Linked DNA regions of Homo sapiens: region 1 is linked to region 2. The links come from fine-mapping of genetic effects on gene expression. A gene starts in region 2. The other region holds a variant in brackets. All regions are shown on one strand. Distances are between the middles of the regions. Region 1 overlaps SCUBE1 (signal peptide, CUB domain and EGF like domain containing 1). Region 2 holds the start of TTLL12 (tubulin tyrosine ligase like 12).

Region 1 (9,868 bases), 37 kb after region 2:
AACAGTCCTGGGGCAAGGGGCCACTGTCATGCCCATCTGACAGATGAGGAGGCTGCGGACCTGGGAGGCAGGGCCTGCCCACGGCCACGCAGCAGATCTGAGTGCAATCCAGGCAGCTGCCACTGCACCACATCACCCCCCAGGGTACGACTCACGGGGCAAGAACGCCTTTCTGTCACTCAAAGACTCTTGGGGACTGCCACTGTCCCCAGGATAGTGTCCAGCTCTCTGGCCTTGAATCCAAGGCCCTTCAAGGTCCAGCCCCGTATGGCCTTGCCAGCCTCATCCCCTCCACTCTGACACTCCCTGTGGATTCCAATGTCTAGCCACCTGGCCCTACTTACTGCTTCCTGGACACCTCCTCCTCTCTCTGACCTCTGTGCCTTTGCCTATTCTATTCCCTCTGCCTGAATGCCATTCCTTGCCACCTTTTCCACCCAGTGAGCTTTGATTCTAAGCTCTCATTCAAATGGCACCTCTTCTGGGAAAGCTTCCTGATATGGTTTCAATATTTGTCTCTTCCAAACCTCATGTTGAAATCTGATCCCTAATGCTGGGGGTGGGGCCTGGTGGGAGGTGTCTGGGTCATGGGGTAGGTCCCTCATGAATGGCCTGGTGTGGTAGTCAGTTCTTGCTGGCTCTACTAGTCGCCACGAGATGTGACTGGTGAAGACATAGGCACCCCCTCCCCTCTCTCTTGCTCCCTTACTCTTGCTATGTGATGCCAGCTGCTCTTCACCTTCCTCCGTGAGCAGAAGCAGCCTAAGGCCTCGCCAGGCAGATGCTGCTGCCGTGTTCTCGGACAGCCTGCAGAGCCGAGAGCCAATAAGCTCTTTTCCTGATAAATTATGCAGCCTCAGGTGTTCCTTTTAGCAACGCAAATAGACTAAAACATTTCCTTTTTTTTTTTTTGAGATAGAGTCTCACTCGTCGCCAGGCTGGAGCACAGTGGCGCGATCTCAGCTCACTGCAATCTCTGCCTCCCAGGTTCAAGCGATTCTCCTGCCTCAGCCTCCTGAGTAGCTGGGATTACAGGTGCCTGCCACCACACCTGGCTAATTTTTGTATTTTTAGTAGAGACAGGGTTTCACCATGTTGGCCAGGCTGGTCTTGAACTCCTGAACTCAAGTGATCCACCCACTTTGGCCCTCCCAGACTGCTGGGATTACAGGCGTGAGCCAGTGTGCCCAGCCAGACTAAGACATTTCCTAAGCCCTCCCGTGGGGGGCAGACCTCAGTTCTATGCATTGTTTGTTCTTGTGCCCCCACCACCGAGAGTCCCACCTGGCAATGGGTGGTTTGCACGTGCGTCTGCCTCTCTGGCTGAGAGTGTTACCTGGGTGGGGACTTTTCTTTCCACAGCGCCCAAGCCCACAGCCAGGCCCATACCACACTTATCTGCTGACAGATCCCATCTCTTCAACATCAACGACTCACAGGTTGACACTCACATATAGCCAAGAGCAAAGTGCTGCTGTGACACCCGAGCCAGCATTAGAACCTCCTTCAGGAACCAGGAAAGACAATCCTTGGCTCAACCATTCTAGGGGGGCTGCACCTATTTGTCCTCCCGGGTCCCAGCAGGAGTGTGGAGGGGCAGATAAGGGTCATGTGACTTTTGAGGTCACCTCGGCTCTTCTGTCTCATTGCCCTGGGCTGCCTCTTCTATCCTGGGCTGCAAGCGTTGACCCCTGCCAGCTCCCTTTGCTTGTGGGCCTGCCTCTGTCTCCAGAAGCTGGGCTCCCATCCCAGCCACAGCTGTGCTCTGGTGGGAGCCTAGCTTCATGCCTGGCAGGCCCCCGGCAGCGCCACCAGCCTGTCGTCCTCCTTCAGGCCTGCAGAAGCCCCCAGGAGAACCCCTCACCTACCTGAGGCCTCTTCCATCTTTGTCTCGATCTCAAACTCTGCTGTGATGTGGGACACCTCCTTGGATGGGGACTTGCGGCCACGGCGCCTCTTCTTGGAGGAGTCACACTTGAGGGTCACGAAAGTCACATGGCAGTGGTCTGGACGAGGAAAGGACCACTGTGGCAAAGGCGGCATGGGGCAGGGAGCAAGGTCCTACCAAGCCCTGCATACAGAGTGCCATTGGCAAGGACTTCCTGGTCCGTGGTGCAGACGGAAAAACTCAGGCTAGAGAAGGTCAGGGCTGGCTCGGGGTCTCAGGAGGGGCTGGTGGCTGAGCCAGGTCTCACGCCCGGTCCATCACGCTGCTGCAGGTGGAGGCATCTCATACATATTCATGAATGAGGCTGTGCCCCCAGCTCTGGGCCTGCTGAGGGTTTGGCCAGTGCAGACTCGGCTCTGGGCAGAGCCTGCTGCGTGCTGAGAGCTCTGTTAGGTTTGAGAAGGAATCTTCACGGGGACAGAGCTGGTGCCTTCCTCCGGGGCCCCTCGTACCAAGCTTGCCCTCCGCTGTTTCCCCAGCCTGCAATGTCCTTGGAAACTCTCATTCAATAAACAGCTGCCAGGTGAGAGAGACCTCCACCCTTGGAAACCAGACTCGCTGGACCCTGGGGCCCCAGCTCCCAGGCATGAGGACTCTCCTACAGCCCCGTTGGTGTGGGTTAGGAGCAGGGCGTCCCACTCACCCAGCAGCGGCTGCCTGGCGGTCTCCTTTGCTCGTGCCTGGCTGTGGGGCCGGAGGTGGCACTTGGCATCTCGGATCTTGAAGCGGGCCTTCTGTTTGATGGGGGTGGTGGGGGCATCTGGGGAAAGCCAAAATTCCCCCAGGTGGTGGCCTCTCCTGCAGGCAAGGAGGTGGTGGGGGACGGGGGCTGCCAGGGGACAAATCCATCTGGAGCTGGGGGTGGGGCTTGATCTGAGTCCCTGTGCCCCGACAGCTCTCCTGGGGTGGGGGACCCTCTCCTGCCCCATTTCTCTCCCTGCAAGGCCTAAAACAGGTGAACACATGGATGGTGGGGTCAAGCTCAAGCCCAGGGGCCACCCGCCAGAGGTCTTCTGAGAAGGAGGACAGGGATCCTCCTACCTCCTCCCCATCAGCAAGCCATGATTGTGCTTTAGGAAAGAGCGTAGAACAGAAGAGAGATAGGACAGCAAGGAAGGGAAGGGGCTTTGAAATACTATAGATCCAGGACTGCCGGTTCCTTGCAAGAGCAAATCATAGCCCTTGGACTAAAGAATCCTACCACCACAGGTGCTTAGAATCAAATCACATATGCATTAAATATATAGAAATGGGCAGGGTGCGGTGGCTCACGCCTGTAATCCTAGCACTCTGGGAGGCCGAGGCAGGCGGATCACTTGAGGTCAGGAGTTCCAGACTAGCCTGACCAACATGGTGAAACCATGTCTCTACTAAAAATACAAAAATTAGCCAGGTGTGGTGATGGGCACCTGTAATCCCAGCTACTCAGGAGGCTGAGGCAGGAGAATTGCTTGAACCTGGGAGGCGGAGGTTGCAGTGAGCCGAGATCACGCCACTGCACTCCAGCCTGGGTGACAGAGCGAGACTCCGTTTTAAAAATAATAATAATAATAATAAAGAAACATACAGAAATGCACCTATCTATCAAATCCAGCATCCTGAATAAGAAAAGCTGCTGAAGACACAACCCTCAGCTCCTTAGCTGGCAGGAGCTAAGGCTGGCTGTGCCATGCCGACCAAGCCCAGCGGGTCACTCCCAAAGGGCTGGGACTGTGCTGCACCTCGGCGCTTCTTGGCATGCTCTGCACGGCCAGGCCAGCTCTGACTCGGGAGAACCTAATAGCCACAGCAGATGTGGCTTGCTCCACCCATACAGTCTGAGATCTGTGCACTCACAGCACGTTAGAGTCCCTGAACCACTCTGGCTGTGACCTCAGAGCCGGAAGGGCCCTCCCACGGTCCCCTGACCCTGGGCTAGAACTCGGCCTGCAGCCTGCTGGCTTCTAGGTCCTGGGCCTGGCTCATCGCCAGCACCCCAGGCCACACGGAGCAGGGCCGAGAGCAGGAAGGTCTTCCCTGGGCGGTGCCCTTTCCTCCCCCGCCAGCATGTTGCTGGATGCAGTCAAGTCACCCAGTGGCATGCAGCATGGACAGGCCGGGGGGGTTACCTGAGCAGCTGGGCCCGAGGCCAGAGCTGGTGCCGTTGCGTTTCTGCAGCGCCTTGCCCTGCGGCCCTGGAACTCCGCAGCTCAGGACGTAGCTATTTTCCGAGTCTGCAGAGAAGCCGGTGGGTGAGGTGGGCCTGGTGCTCCTCCCTCCCACGGCCCTCAGATTCTTGGGGCCTCAGAGGGATTGTGGAGTGAGACGAAGATCAGGACAGATTCTTCTGCCAGTTTCTGCTACACAACCACAGGGAAGTGGCCAGGAGGAAGGAGCCCACTGGGTTTACTGAGAAGGACAGCGAGGCCCACAGAAAACCAGACAGCTGCCTTAGGGTCACTCAGTTATCAGAGACCCTCATTCCTAGGTCAGACTCTTTCCTGGAGGACAGCTGGGAGCAATGGTGGGACCCCAGGGAGGAAGACCCCCCTGCCACAGCATCCCATCTCAGGGACGGCCCGGGTTACCTGGCACGAAGAGTGTGTGAGCCGGGCAGGAAAGGAAGCAGCTCTCCACACCGCCTGCCTTGCTGCAGGACAGCTGGGCCCGGGGGGAGGTCTTGGCGCGAGAAAGACACTTGCCTGTCTCTATGAAGGGAGATACGAGAGAGGGCTGAGAGAGGCCAGGGCGGAGGCTTCCTGGAGCCAGGAGGGTCCTGGGTATGGCCTAATGGGGACTCCCCCAACTCCCTTCTTCCATGGCTGGGCTGGCTTGGTGGGAAGGCGCCTGGAGATCGCAGGTCCCTTGGGCGTGTGGGGATGCTGGGCC[C/G]AGACAGCTGGCTTAGTCCCTCCTCCCCTTCAGGCTCTAATCCTGGCTGTGAGAAGGTTCATGTCCCCATCCCCAGATCAGAAACTCCCTGAGGGCAGGGCTGAGCTCTCCAGGGCAGGCGTCCATTCCCACTGGGGAAAGGAACGGCGCTAAATGAACACTGGCTTCCTGGGAGGGGCCGTGGGGGGGATCGCTCGGAAGCACCTCTTTGGGGCAGCCTCTGCTACAGCCATCAGGTGTCTGGAGAAACAGCCCTCCAGAATTTCTCACTTGCTTACTTATCTTTAGAGGATGAAAAAGTCCCCCGGACTCCTAGGAAAAGACGGACGGTTCTACAGCCATGGTAAATACCAGAACTGATTTTACAGATGGCTAATTGGTCGGTGACAACCGGCTTATGTGGCACGCCTCTGAAAGCCACCTCATGAGTGACAGCCTCGCACTCTGGTCAGTCATCAATGTGGAGTTACTCCAGTGTAACCAGGCTTCCAGGTTCAGTCAAGTCACCTCCCTTCTGTAACCCACACAGGCCATGCTTCTAGACTCCCATCAACCTAATCCCAACCTGCCTGGAATAAGCTTTGCCCCAAATCCCCAGGGAAGATCAGCAGTTTGCTTTGCTCCCTGAGCCTGCCTGACCAACACAGCTCCCCCTTACTTAAGCGACAGCTCAGCTTTCTGGTTTCAGATACTGAGCGGTGGCTGATCTCATCCTTTGGTAATTCTGGAGGTTCCTCCAAGATTGTTTTAGAAACCCTTGCTTCCCAGTGTCCTTTGGGTGCCGTGGGCCACAGGTGTCCTTGGTCAACCCCCGGGGCCCACATTTTGTCTGTCCTGCTGATTGCTTTCTGCGAGGGCACCGTGTGACAACACTCTGAGCTCTCACTTGCTTTGCTGCTCTCTCGTGCTGACTGCTTTGTTAGCAAGTGGGCCTCTGGCTGGGGAGCAAGACCTTGTGTTCGGAGACACACATTTACCTGTGTGTTCTGCTGCTGGGCACTTTGCTTTTGCTTGACTATTAGATAAAGGTTTATCCCATGAGTTTTGTTGTGCTCTGACTTGTCTTGTGTTTGATGGATAGATAACAGGGTGCTCCTTGGGGACCAGATGGCGACACAGGCCCTGCATGCTTCCAACTCAATCCAAGCTGGCCCCCAGGATCAATGGTCAGAGGTCTATGATACTAGGGGCCAATTCCTGTAGGCAACTAGGCAGGGCTTTCCTTGGGTCCCTTCTAAAATCTTCCTCAGGGCGCTCCTGTTCTGCCAACACGTGAAAGGAGGCCCCTTTGTTTTCTCCATATTCTGGGGTCACAGCTGTCAGGTCACTGACTGCACGGCCCTTTCCAGCCTGTGTCTGGTTGGGGGAACCGGAACGTCATGCTAAGCACACACTTTTGACTGATGAAAGTGATGATCATGGGCTGGTTATGCCAAGGCTGCAACTTCCCTGGCTGAACTCCTGCAGCCTTATGAATTTAGACTATTATCCTAACTTGTGCTTGTCCTGGTAAATGGCAAACTGCCCCCTACTCACCACAAAACCTAAACAGCGACAACTACCACCACCAGCTTAGAATAACGTTGGTCATTGTGGGAACTTCTGACACATCAAAACTAATACATTAATATATTTAAGAGGAGCTCTAAAATGTTAGGAGACAAAATTTCATCATTTAATAGCTTCTGCCACTGGTATACCTTGGCCTCAGTTTCCTCCCACTCAAACCTTCCGAAATCCACTTGCCACTCTCTCTGCCCAGCTCCATCTTCACCAGCCACTTATCGCATCACCCCCCCACTCCTGCCCCTCCATCTCCTACACAAGCAACTCCTCCCTTAGGGTTTATCCCAGGAAAGCCAGAAATCAGATCTCTAATGCTGGATGTAAAGCCACGTCTAGAGCTATGCTGAGTGCTGAAGGAAATTTTCCTAAACTCCAGGAGACAGACAAACATTTGCTTAAGAATTCAGGATATCGCTGGATAGTTATTGTCCCGGATGATCAGATCTGTATCACAATGAGTTCACCTAAGTGTTAGGATCTTGGATGGAAGAAAAAGTTCAAAAGCAACAGATGGTAAAGAGCAGTAGAAGCGGCCGGGCTCGGTGGCTCACGCCTGCAATCCCGGCACTTTGGGAGGCTGAGGTGGGTGGATCACAAGGTCAGGAGGTCGAGACCAGCCTGACCAACATGGTGAAACCTCGTCTCTATTAAAAATACAAAAATTAGGTGATCTGGTGATCTGCCCACCTCAGCCTCTCAAAGTGCTGGGATTACAGGCGTGAGTCACCGTGCCCGGCCAAATGTTTCTTTCTGAGAAACTAAATGTGTCAGCCTCTTTCTTCTGCCACTCAGTTTCTTGCCCTTTGGAGGCAGGTTTGCGTAAACCTGCTCACCACAGAGCAATGACCCCCTAACACCCTCAATGAACAACGCTTTCCTGCAAAGAATCTGAAGGTACCATATCCTTCCTATGCTTGTAAGACGGAGATCCCCTCATGCTGCCTCCGCCACCCGTACAACCCCAAACAAGCTCTTTCCCAAAACTCAGCAGAAGAGCAGCAGTTGACTTTGTTCAGTGAGACTTTGCCTGAAAAGCACAGCAAGTCCTTCCACAAGTACGTGATAAACTCAGCCTTTGGATTTCAGATATTAAATGATGGTTTGTATTCGTTAATGTGTTCACTGACAAATATTTACTCTGTGTCTGTGATTGTCAGGGTCTGTTCCAGGTGCTGGGGCTCTAGCAGTAAATGGGACAGGCCAAGAAGACCTGTTTAACTGTGTAAAGCTTACATTCTAGTGAGGAGAGAGAGATGGACAGACAGACAGACATACACCAACACGAACCTGTAAAGTGCACATTACTTCTGGTGGCTGGGAGTGTGATGGGAGGGAAAGCAAGCTGGAAGCACAGGGGGCCCAGATGGGTGCGGAAGTGGCCAAGGCTGCGGCTCTGGGTGGGTGATGGGGCAGGCCTCACTCACAGACCCTCACAGCAAGGGAGGAGTGAGGAGTGCTGGTGTGGGGGGGCCCTCCAGGCCAAGAGAAGCGCACAGCCTCGGGCTGAGGGCTGGTGGAGGCCCTGCGAAGTCAGTGAGGCTGGCGTGAAGCGAGGGAGACAGCAGAGGGCAATCCTGTCAGCTGGCGGCAGCCTTCGGGCCATTCCAAGCGCTGTGGCTTTGATTCAGAGTCAAAGGAGGAGTTACCGGGGTTGGAAGGGGCGGAGGGTGGGGGTGGGGGCGGGGTTCTGAGCCCAGAGGGATGTTCTAACTTACATTTAAAAGGCTCACTTAGGCTGCCCTGGGGATGTCAGAGTGTGGCGGGGCAAGGACCCGGCGTGGAGGTTCCAGGAGGGCAGGCCCACAGCCCCAGCACCCAGACAGGGTCCCATGTACAGGGAACCAGGGAACGCAGGGGCCCGTCCAGAACTCAGCCTAGGGGCACCCAGTGCTGCGAGCATGCCTGCAGAGGGGGCAGGGACCATGGGCTTTCCAGGAGGCACTGCCACATCCCCTGCAACTGTGCCCCACTGAGGCTGCTGCACCCCGAGTGACCCTCCTCCTCCCCCTCAGCCTCCTCAGCAAGACAAGGGGAAGCTACCAGAGGAGAGGCCTCCACACCCACTCCCTCTAAGCTTCCAGCTCTATGGAGACATCAGCAGGGTCCCTGTGCCCCACGGCTGGGCTGCACATGGACCTGCAGATCTCCTCTGTGCCCTCCTCCCCACTTCAGGTCCCTGTTGCAGTGCCTCTGGCTGACACTGGCATGCTCTGCCTGGGACCCCCTCCTTTTCTGCAAGTCCTCATTCCCATCAGCCATACCCCAACAGCAGAGAACCTCTGCCTGGGAATGCAAGGCCTAGAGGAAAGGGAGGGGCTGTCCTGCTCACCCCCACCTCAGAAAAGCCACTGTCCCTCCCATCCAAGCCCAGGTGCAGGGGAGGGGCCAGCAGCACAGGGCGGCCACCTACCCACGCAATCCTTCCCGTTCCAGTGGAGCCGCCTCCCCGGGGGACAGACGCACTCGTAGCTGCCCTTGGTGTTGACGCAGCCCTGGTCACAGCTCCCGTTGCTCATGCTGCACTCGTCCACATCTGGAAGCACAGCGGGCGTAAGGGCAGAGGGGAGGCTGGCGGCTGGCGGCTGGCAGGGGAAGGGACCACCCAGGGCAAGAGGGCAAGAATCTCCTGACCCCACCGAGTCGGACAGCATCACGGGATGCAGATGAGCAGTGCACACGCCACACGCACACACACGCGTGGGTTTATAAGGCTCCTCACAGACCCCAGCGTCCCTTCCCCCAGGAACCTGGGTGGTTTTCTGAACTCAAGCAGCTGCACCCCAGGCTAGGGGGCAGAGGAGGTAGCACACGATTAAAGTTCCAACCCAACCAGGTTTTGTGGCGCAGGGAATGAGCACTGCTCCAGGGATTGTGAAACTGATTTTACCGTGGGACTCTGGACAAGCCCTTTTCTAGCCCCGGGTCCCCTGTGGTACAACAGACACCAGGGTGAAAGAGGTCACCGCTAAGGCCTTTCCTCCTCTGACCAAAAGCACCCGCTGAAGCTGGGGGAAGGGGCTGGGCCCCACATTCTGTTAGTTCTTGAGCTGCCTGCACTCGGCAGGCCCAGGGAAGGGGTGCCCAAGTTTTCGAGAGTCTTTCCAGAAGAATCTGTAGCCCGCCTCCAGAAGCCCAAGCACCAGCTATGTCCTGATCACATTCTTGCCTGACCCTGTCTGATCTTCAAGTGGCCTGGCATCGTGAGTGTGGCTACCCCCAGGTCACAGAAAAGGAAGAGAGAGGGGGACCGTCCTTGGCTTCCTAATCTTCACCCACCATGCCCATATAACACCAAGTCCCAGCAGCCTGGCTCTGACTCCTAAATACATCTAGAATCTTCCTCTTTGTTCCGTCGCTGCCCACCCTGCCCCGGCTCCAGCAGTGCATGCTCCCATGCCTGGAGCTGTCTTCCCAGTGGTACCCTGGATTCCACTCTCCTTTCCATGTGGTCACTGGGGCATCTAGTTCCATGAACTTGACCATATC
Region 2 (9,868 bases):
TTTACTCTTGCACTTGTGTTAGAGTGGGTGACCACGTGATGCAGGGCAGAGCCAGGCCTTCGGGGTGACCCTGGGCAAGTGCAACAAGGGGTGTTGTACAAAGATAGCTATGGGGATGAGGATGGAGAGCTTGTTAGGGCCTGGCAATCAGGGGAGACTCAGGGGGATGAAGGCCCGGAAGCAGAAAGGCCCGGAAGCAGAAAGGCCCGGAAGCAGGTGGGGCTGAAACAAACACTCAGGCTCCAAATCCAAGACTCTGGATCCCTAGCCTCCCCACCACCCAAAACAAGGCTGGCAGCGGGGTATGTGGTTGTAGGCCCGAGAGAGAACATGAGCTGGGAGCTCCCAGGGCAGCCACTGCACTGAATTCACCTGTTCCTGGGCCTGAGCCGCACAGGAGAACTCACTTCACTGAACCTGAAGGGGACGGTGAGCCCAAGCACGCATGGGCGGGGGTGCTGGGCTGTCCGTATTTCCGGGGTGGCTTGCTACTGCCCACTCCCAGCTGGAGGAGGAGGCGGGAGAAGCTCTGCAGAAGAGACCAGACCCCTGCCCAAAGAGCTGTGCGTGGACACAGGGGCCCAGCAAGTTTCTCTGAGGGTCCACAAAACCTTTGGCAGATGGGCCTGCAGGCCTGACCTAGGGATAGCCACTCTTGGTCCCTGGGGGCAGGAAGCCTGGGGTACAGTCTCAGCTCTGCCCTAACTACACCGTGGTCCTTGGCAAGGCCAGGCCTGCTCTGGGTCTCAGGTCCTCAGGTGTTCCAGGGCCCACCCCAGATTCCAATTTAGCAGGACCAGAGAGGGGCTGTGACTGGGGAGGAGTAAGGCTGACCTGCACCCTTAACCTGGAGGGTGACCTCGAGCAAAACTGGAACTTCTAATCCCCTGTAGCAGGACCACTGTGACAATGAGACCGCTGGGAGAGGCTCTCAGGCCGCGGTCCATCCGGTCACCCCAGGAACGCTGTGTTGCCACGGACAGTACTCTGAAGCCCTGATGGACACACCGCTGGCCACACGTGCTTGCCACAAAGCTGTCCTAAGGAAGATGTCCAGCGGCGGTGCAGGGCCCAGGAGAATCTGCATTACTGCATCTCCCACCTTTCACCAAGTGAAGGTTGTGGTGGTGTCTCTGGCCAGGCTCCTACCTGTTGGGGTGGGCTGCCTGGAGCCCGCTCTCCCTGGTCACGATGACCTTGTAGCACAGCTCGTTCCCCGGGTTGGGCTGCTGCTTCCGCACCTCCCGGGCTGCCTCGTCCTCCTCCTCTTCTACCTCCTCCACTTGCATGATCCCAAACACTTCCCCAGCGTCGAAAACCTGGGGGCCAGAGTTCCCGTCAGCAGGGGTGTGGGCAGGAGACCCCACCCCAATGCCTTCACCACTCCAGAAAGCCACCCGAGGTGCCACACCCAGGCCTCAAGGACAAACTTGTCTCCTTCAGAGGTGTGGGACCTGTTTAATGCAACCACACAGTCTTACGGGCGGGGAGACTGAAGCTCCTGGAGATTTCAGGCTCGGAACAGGGACCTAATGTACCCCACCGTCACCTGAGCTGTCATCCAGAGCCTCGTCCCACAGGATGCTGTGCATGGAGATGGGACCTTGAGGACTTGCTGGAGGTATCTGTAGTCCACCCCACTCACATTACACAGAAAGAGAGGCCCCAAAGGCAGAGAGGGTGGCTCCAATTACACTGGAGGTCAATGGAAGAGTCAGGATCTTGGTGGCTGGGGGCACACCCCAATGCCCCCCTCACCAGAAGAACCCCTCAACACTAGGACAGCTGAGTCAACTCACAGAGAAGCCTCCTCCAGCCCAGCCCCACCCAATCCAGGCCAACAGGAAGCGAGGCCCCAGGTCAAGGTGGGATGGGGAGATAAGGGCCTTGGTCCTGCCTTGTGCGGCTAGTCAAGCAGGCAAGTGACCTCTTCTGGTGTGTGTGGAGCAGAGGGGTCCCTGGCACAGCCACACTCACGCCCTGTCTGCCACAAGCCGGCAAGGGGGGCTTCTGGGCAGATTCTGGAGCCAGGCTGTGTGGGTTCAAATCTTGGTTTCACCACTTCCTAGACAAGTGACCTTGAACAAGTTACTTAACTATCCCATGCGTGTTTCCTCATCCACACAATGGGAATAACAGAACCTCCCTCTGAGGGCTACTGGGAGGATTAGGTGATTCATACCCAGAACTCAGAGTGGAGCCTGGCCACAGCAAATGCTCTATAAACACGTGGCGCCATTGTTACACTTCTGAGACTGTTTCTTCACTTGTGAGAGGGGGTGTCATCCACCTTTCAGGACACTGATGGAATGAAATCAAACAGCGTGCATAAAGTCCTGGCGCACAGTGGAGGCTCAACAAAGGCCAGTTCCTCCCTAAAACGTATTTCCCACTACTCGATTAAAAACGGCAGTTGGAAACTAGCTAAGTACTCAGGTGCAGGCAGCTTTTGTGCACTGGGCAGGACTTGCCCTTTGGTGGCGTGAGGATGAATCACTCAAGGTCTCGCTCAGGAAGCTCAGGCTGAGTAAGGTCTAGGCCACCTAAGAGTATCAGGTAAATTGCTCTGGGGCCTGGAGGGCCTGGGAAGACTTTATGGATGAGGAACCATAACCAGAGGCCAGCTTTGAAGAAGGGGAAGATTTAAACATGAGGCTACGGGGTGAGGATGGAAAGGAACTCCACGCAGAGGGAAGAGTAAGAGCGAAGGCCTGGAGGCAGATAGCCCAGGGTGGAGCAAACCAGGGGTCACATGAGAGACAAGGCACCTGAGACAAGAGCCATCCAGTTCTCCTTTAGCCCTCAAGGTGGGTCTGGGGAGGCTACTGCCTTCTCCAGTTTAGGGCTGGGGGGAGGCTCAGAGGGCTGGAATCCAGACCTCGGGCTTCCGCCCCAGTACTCCAAATCCCTAGGGGACAGCGTGAGGCTGAGGGTCAGAGAGCCTGTCTCAAGCCTGGCCTGGATTCAACCCAGCTGTGAAATGGGGTGCTGGGTTTCTCCTTCACCACAACCCCTTCATGGCAGGACTGGAAGAGCTCCCCAGGAGATAAGGGGAGTGGTTTTGCAACTGGGAAGCTTGTGCAGACAGAAGAGTAGACATTTTAAAAACATCTCTTCGGCCGGCCGTGGCGGCTCACGTCTGTAATCCCAACACTTCGGGAGGCCAAAGCGGGCGGATCACGAGGTCAGGAATTCGAGATCAGCCTGACCAACATGGTGAAGCCCCATCTCTACTAAAAATACAAAAATTAGCTGGGTGTGGTGGCGCACGTCTGTAATCCCAGCTACTCGGGAGGCTGAGGCAGGAGAATCATTTGAACCCGGGAGGCAGAGCTTGCAGTGAGCCGAGATCATGCCACTGCACTCCAGCCTGTGTGACAGAGCAAGACTCCGTCTCAATTAAAAAAAGAAAAAAATTATATATATATATATATATATATATATATATATATATATATATATATATATATGTATGTATCTTCAAGTTTCCCCATCCTTTCCAGGGCAGCCGGCCTAAGGTGAGGCAGGAGGGCTGATGGCCAGGGGTGTAAGGGCCCACAGCGCTGGCAGGTGCTGCTGCTGCTGGCGGCCTCCTCCACACCTGGGCCAGTAGCAGCAGGAGGCTTCACTCAGGAAGAGCTGCAAGTTTGTGAATGGTAAAGCAGTGATTCAGCTCTGTCCTTAACGGCTGGGGAAGGGTCACGGAAAAACACTGGCTGCCCCTTAGTAGGGCAACAGCAGGCAAGGCGGCCTGGGCAGGGGACGTGGCACGGTGGCGACCACCCTCTGTGTGCCAGGCATATTTCTCATGCCACCTCCCATCCTTCCAATACTGTGGGAGCCAGATGGTGTCTCACCATCCCCTTCCCAGATGGAGAACAGGTCTCAGACGGGCGAGTGACCGCCCGAGGGAGGGCGTGCTGCCGTGGAGGCTGGCTGGGCAGGAGCTGGTCATTCCCACTGTGCTCCTTCCACGCAGCCCATGGGAACCTTTTTGTCCTCATGAACAAACCAAGGTCCCTTCCACCCAGCACAGGCCTGGGACCAGAGTGGTCCTCGGAAAGCATATGGCAGAAGTGAGGGGCAGAGGAAACTCTCTGTTACACTGTAGCATAAGGAGGTGCCACTCACTGCACGTTTCCAGCAGGAAGGTTCCTAGTCCAATCAGGATTACACAGAGAAAAACTGGCTCAGAGACCGTAGAGTCTGGCCAGCAGCCAGGCTCAGGGACTCCTAGTTCCCGGCCCGGGTCCCTGTTCTTGGCTCTGGGGTTTCCACTTCATCACCTGCGCCACTAGGCTCATCTCCGTCCGGGAGACAGCACCTGGAGGAGATGTCGGGTCCCAGCTAAAGAAAACACCCCCCCCCCCGCCAGCCCGGGAAGGTGCTGTGGCCTCAGCCTCTGGGCACGCAATAAAAATCCAGGGCTCATCCCCAGCCAGGACAGTGGGGAACGCTTTGGAGTGGAGGAGGCAGGTGAGCCGGATGGGCCGTCCTCACAAAAAGGGAGAGAACCTAGAGGCTTCTCAATCTTTTCCATTTTTCTTTAGATTTCTCCTCCACCTCTCACAGCCTGTTTTCTTTAACCTGCAAGATGAGGGGACCCCGAGGCTCAAATCAAATGAAAAAACACCGAATTCTGTGAACCCAACAGTTACAGCTACACAAATTCACGGGGTTCCCGTTGTCCCTGTGAGGCAGCGGCTGAAAGAATCCCTCTGAAGGGACTCTCGGAGCCGCAGTGTTCTCATCTGTGAAGTGGGGGTGATGAGTTTCACTCCTCGCAGGGCTGTGTCAGGCTCGGGTGTGTGGAGGACCTAAAGTTCCCAACGCAGCCCTCAGCCGGTCTCGGGCCCGGGCAGATCAGGGCCGCAGGTACCCCGGTCTCCTGCTGTCACTCTTCGGCCCCCAACTCCACGCCGCTCCAGAGCTGCCCAGGACGCGCTCTGGGTGGCTCACCGCGGCTCCCGCCGCCCGGGAGCGCTCTTCCCTGTCCCGCGCCGCGGGCTCCCGCCGCGCTCCCACCCCGGCCGCCGCACGTGCCCGCCGCCCTTCCCCGCACCTCGTGCTCCAGCTTGTGCAGGAGGCGGCCCCAGTAACGTTCGGGGACCCCCGAAGCGCGCAGCGCCGGGCCGTGCAGCGCCGCGAACTCGGCCAAGGCCTGCGCGCCCTCCTCCGGCGTCTGGCCCGGGCTGCTACGCTCCGCAGGCCGGCGCTCGGGACCCCGCTCGGCCTCCATGGCGCCAGCACCCGCGCCGACTCCAGCGCCGCCACCGCCGCCGCCGCCCGCCGTCCGTCGGCCCTGCCCTCCCGCCTCCGCCCCCTGCCCCGCCCCGCCCTCCTCCCAGCGCCCCCCCCCCCGCCCCGCCCTCCTCCCAGCCCCCCCCCGCCCCGCCCTCCTCCCAGCCCCCCCCCGCCCCGCCCTCCTCCCAGCCCCCCCCGCCTCCGCCCCCCGCCCCGCCCGCCTCCCAGCACCCCCGCCCCGTCCTCCTCCCAGCCCCCCGCCCACCGCCCCGTCCTCCCCCCAGCCCCCCGCCCCTGCCGCGCCCCCTGCCCCCGCCCCCTGCCCCCCTCCCCACCGCCCCGTCCTCCTCCCGGCCCCCCCGACCCCTCCCCTGCCCCGCCCTCTTCTCGCCCCCTCACCCCGTCCCGCCCCGCCCCCAGTCCGCCTCCAGCCCGGTTTGCCGCGGCCCCCGGGCAGGCCCTGCGCATCGGCGGGGTGCGTGCGAGAGCGCGCGAGCTTGCCAGGAGGGGGCGCGCGTCTGCGACCGCGCCTGTGGTTTGGCTGCCGCCGTGTGCGCACGCGCACCTGATGGTGGCTGAGCTTTTCTCGCTCAGCGCGCGGCGACCCCGGGGAATGCCGGGAGGGCGGGGTGCCTACGTATAGGGCGCTGTCAGGACCGGAAAAGGCCCCACCGACGGCCCGGAAGGTGTCCTGGGGCCCGAACCCGGTGAGGCGGCGCTTCTGTGCCTGCACCGGGCACACAGAGCTCGCAGGCCCCCTGCCTTGGGAGCTCTCGATTCTTGTGAGCGTTTCACCAGATTTGGATGCTGCAAAATCGTGGCCCTTCTCAATTACTTATATTTGGATTCGGAATGTCAGTTGATCCAATTAAGACCAAGTGTACCCGTCAGAGGAATTTACTCCTACATGTCGGGATGTTTCGAAGTGCAGTTGAGCTGGGCGTGGTGGCCGCGTCTGTAGTCCCAGTTACTCGGGAGGCTGAGGCGGGAGGATAGCTTGAGCCCAAGAATTCAAGTCCAGCCTCGGCAACATAGCCAGACTCCCTCTTTAAAAGAAAACAGTTCAGTTATAGAATTTCAAAAGACATTCTCTTTTGAACTCTCATTGAGTTTTATTGCTCCATAGGGATACATTTCAATGTCTTCCTTTTTGCAATTTTGTAAGAATTGTAATTTGCTAAAAAACAAAGGCTGAAAATTTTTTGGAGCTTCAGATGCTATTTTGATAACATTTTTGAACTGAGTTTGAATAAAATGCACCAATTCACGGACTTGTTCAATTCCATTGTAGGAAGCAGGTGGGTCTGCAAAGGCAAAAATTTCCAAACTCAAGTTGGTGAGGGCTGCAGAGAAAAACATTTTATTTATTTATTTATTTTGGGATGGAGTTTTGCTCTTGTTGCCCAGGCTGGAGTGCAATGGTGCAGTCTCGGTTCACTGCAACCTCTGCCTCCCGGGTTCAAGTGATTCTCCTGCCTCAGCCTCCCAAGTAGCTGGGGCTACAGGTGTGTGCCACCACGCCTGGCTAATTTTTTGTATTCAGTAGAGACAGGGTTTCACCATGGCCAGAGGAAAACCCTGATTCCTCGGTTTTTGTTGTGGAAGCCAAGGCTGAGATTGTACCATTGCACTCCAACCTGGTCAACATAGCGAGACTCCATCTCAAAATAAATAATATAGTAAAACAGCATCACAATGCTAGGATGGGGCATGCTGGCTCACACCTGTAATTCCAGCACTTTGGGAGGCCAAGACAGGAGGATCACTTGAAATAAGGAGTTTGAGACCAGGCTGGGCAACAAAGCAAGACCTCGACCCTACAAAAAGAAATTTTTAATTAGCCAGGTATAGTGGTACACACCTAGTGCACCTCCCGCTTCCACAACCCTTCCATCGGTCCCGCTGGGGAAGACAGACTGAGTCTCAGTTGTGTCAGGTACTGGTCAGATTATGTGAACATTCCTGACCCAGCCCCTTTGACCAGGAGAATGTGAGGCTCTGACAGGGCAGTCCTCTTTCACATGCTCCTCCCCAAATGTAAACCCAGTTGTATCAGATCCCTACTTGGAACCCTTTGTGGTTCAACTCTTCACCTGAGCTCCAAGGCTCTGTGTGAGCTGGCACTGCCAACTTTTCCAGCCTCTTTTCATTACACTCTTCCCCTCACACTGTGAGTCCCTGTATCTCTGGTTGTCTTCAGCTCCTGGAAAGCATTGTGCTCTGTTTTCTGCCAGAAAGCCTTTCTCCCCATGCTCACTTTGTAAATCCTGACTCATTCTTCTCAGCTGAAATGTTGTCTTCTAAAGAGGCACTGAAGAATGTGTATTTAATCAACATAAAATTACTGCTCTGCTCCCATTACTGCCACCAACCCCCTCCCCCTCCAGACAATTGAAAAAAAGGAGAGAGAGAAACAGGGAAAAAAAAAAGAGTTTAAAAGTCCCTTCCATAGCCGGGCACAGTGGCTCATGCCTGTAATCCTAGCACTTTGGGAGGCCAAGGCGGGTGGATCACCTGAGATCAGGAGTTCGAAACCAGGTTGACCAACATGGTGAAACCCCATCTCTACTAAAAATACAAAATTTAGCCGAGCATGGTGGTGGGCACCTACAATCCCAGCTACTCAGGAGGCTGAGGCAGGAGAATTGCTTGAACCCAGGGGTGGGGGTATGGAGGTTGCAGTGAGCCAAGATCGCATCAACTCACTCCAGCCTGGGGGAAACTCCGTCTAAAAATAAAAAAGGCCCTTCCATCCTGAAAATCCAAGCCCAGGTTGACCTTTGGTCCCTGATAGCTTTTTGTTCTGAGAGCTTTGCCAAGGGTACTCATACAAAATGGGTTTTTCATACAACATGGAGCCTAAACCCAATACAATGACTTTGTGAAAGTTGATCATAAGAATTGGGTCACCAGGCGTGGTTGCTCACCCCTGTAATCTCAGCACTTTGGGAGGCCGAGGTGGGTAGATCACTAGGTCAGGAGTTCAAGACCAGCCTGGCCAAGATGGTGAAACCCCCGTCTCTGCTAAAACTACAAAAATTAGCCTTGGTGCGGTGCCTGTAACCCCAGCTACTTGGAAGGCTGAGGCAGGAGAATTGCTTGATCCCTGGTGGCAGAGGTTTCAGTGAGCCGAGATCGTACCACTGCACTCCAGCCTGGGCCACAGAGTGAGACTCCAACTCACAAAAAAAAAAAAAAAAAAAAAAAATTGGGTCATTCTTGTCATAATTAAAACAGAGTTGAGAAGCCAAGAGGGAAAAAGCATTTGGGGTGCAAGGCATTGTTCCCAAAATGTAATTCTCTGTAAGCCCGACTGCTGAAACTGCTTGTGGTAACCTAAAACCATTTATTGATAACTTCTGAGATAACTGACTGCAACTCTAGGACTAATAAGGCTCACCAAGCTGAGCTTACTAACTCCCCAAACCCTTACAAGTACCAGTGAACTTTCTCAAAGAGCAATATGTAACATTTCTTCTTCTTTTTTTTCTTTTTGAGGAAGGGTCTCACTTTGTTGCCCAGGCTAGAGTGCAGTGGCCAGTGACGCAATCATAGCTCACTGCAGCCTTGAACTCCTGGGCTCAAGCAATCCTCCCACCTCAGCCTCCTGAGTAGCTAGGACTACAAGCATGTGCCACTATGCCTGGCTAATTTTTAAGTTTTCTGTGGAGACAGGGGTCTCATTGTGTTGCTTAGGCTGGTCTCAAACTCCTGGCCTCAAGTGATCCTTCTGCCTTAGCCCAGAGCACTGGGATTGTAGGCATGAGCAACTGTGCCTGGCCCATTTCTCTGTTTTAAATAAAACTTCTAACCTTCTCTTTGTTCTTCGGACAAAGCAAAGACCACCTGGTCTGTAGGTGCACCCTGAATGGCAGTTCCTTCTTCACAAATAAAACATTACATTTAGGCCAGGCATGGTAGTTCATGCCTGTAATCCCAACACTTTGGGAGGTCAAGGTGGGCAGATTGGTTGAGCCCAGGAGTTTGAGATCAGCCTGAGCAACACAGTGAAACCCCATCTGTACAAAAAATACAAAAATTAGCCAGGTATGGTCGTGGGTGCCTGTAGTCCCAGATATTCGGGAGGCTGAGGCGGGAGGATTGCTGGAGCCCTGGAGGTTGAGGCTGCAGTGAGCCATGACTGTGTCACTGCATTCCAGCCTGAGCAACACAGTGAAGCCCTGTCTCAAAAAAACAAACAAAAAAACAAAAAACTACACACATTAAGTTTACAGAGCTGTCTCTACATTTTTGATTTTGACATACATGGTGTCAGCAGTGGGACCAAGCACTGAACCACTTTGGGGAGAATCTCACACTGGGGCCCTCTGACACCCTTCTACCTTTGTGAGTCACCTCTTCTCCCACCTGGTAAGTCTCTCTTGGACAGAACTCCTGAATTTGGTTTGAGTTCTCTCTTATTTGGGAAATGGCTGGGGAGGTGACTTTCCCTGTCCTGTGTGGGATATCTGCTGTTGGGGAGGGTTATTTTCCTCCTGTTGATCTCAGCTGTGAGGTCTGGATCTTGAGGTTTGGATGAGGGGATTTTTTTCCCCTCATTTGAAGATGACTATTATTCTTCCTGGTGAGTACATACTTATATTTTCTGTCTGTTTGTGTTTCT

The links. PIP is the estimated chance that this variant, and not a neighbour inherited with it, causes the effect.
Region 1: its variant is fine-mapped to the expression of TTLL12 in whole blood (INTERVAL, PIP 0.98).

Annotation. Positions count from the first base shown.
Region 1 is chr22:43,218,582-43,228,449 of GRCh38, forward strand. It overlaps SCUBE1 (signal peptide, CUB domain and EGF like domain containing 1), which reads right to left. Exons shown (of 22, transcript NM_173050.5): 10 at 8,793-8,915; 11 at 4,516-4,635; 12 at 4,057-4,161; 13 at 2,592-2,708; 14 at 1,869-2,006. Among named protein-coding and RNA genes, the nearest start is that of SCUBE1-AS2, 11 kb to the left of the region's middle. RefSeq lists enhancers at 1,666-2,167, 7,285-7,851, 7,852-8,417 and a silencer at 6,499-6,664. The variant C/G (reference allele first, on the strand shown) is at 4,817.
Region 2 is chr22:43,181,831-43,191,698 of GRCh38, forward strand. TTLL12 (tubulin tyrosine ligase like 12) reads right to left here and starts at 5,304. Exons shown (of 14, transcript NM_015140.4): 1 at 5,063-5,304; 2 at 1,150-1,319. The coding sequence starts at 5,239. RefSeq lists enhancers at 3,955-4,459, 4,400-4,479, 4,490-4,549 and silencers at 4,930-5,149, 5,190-5,349, 5,598-5,717.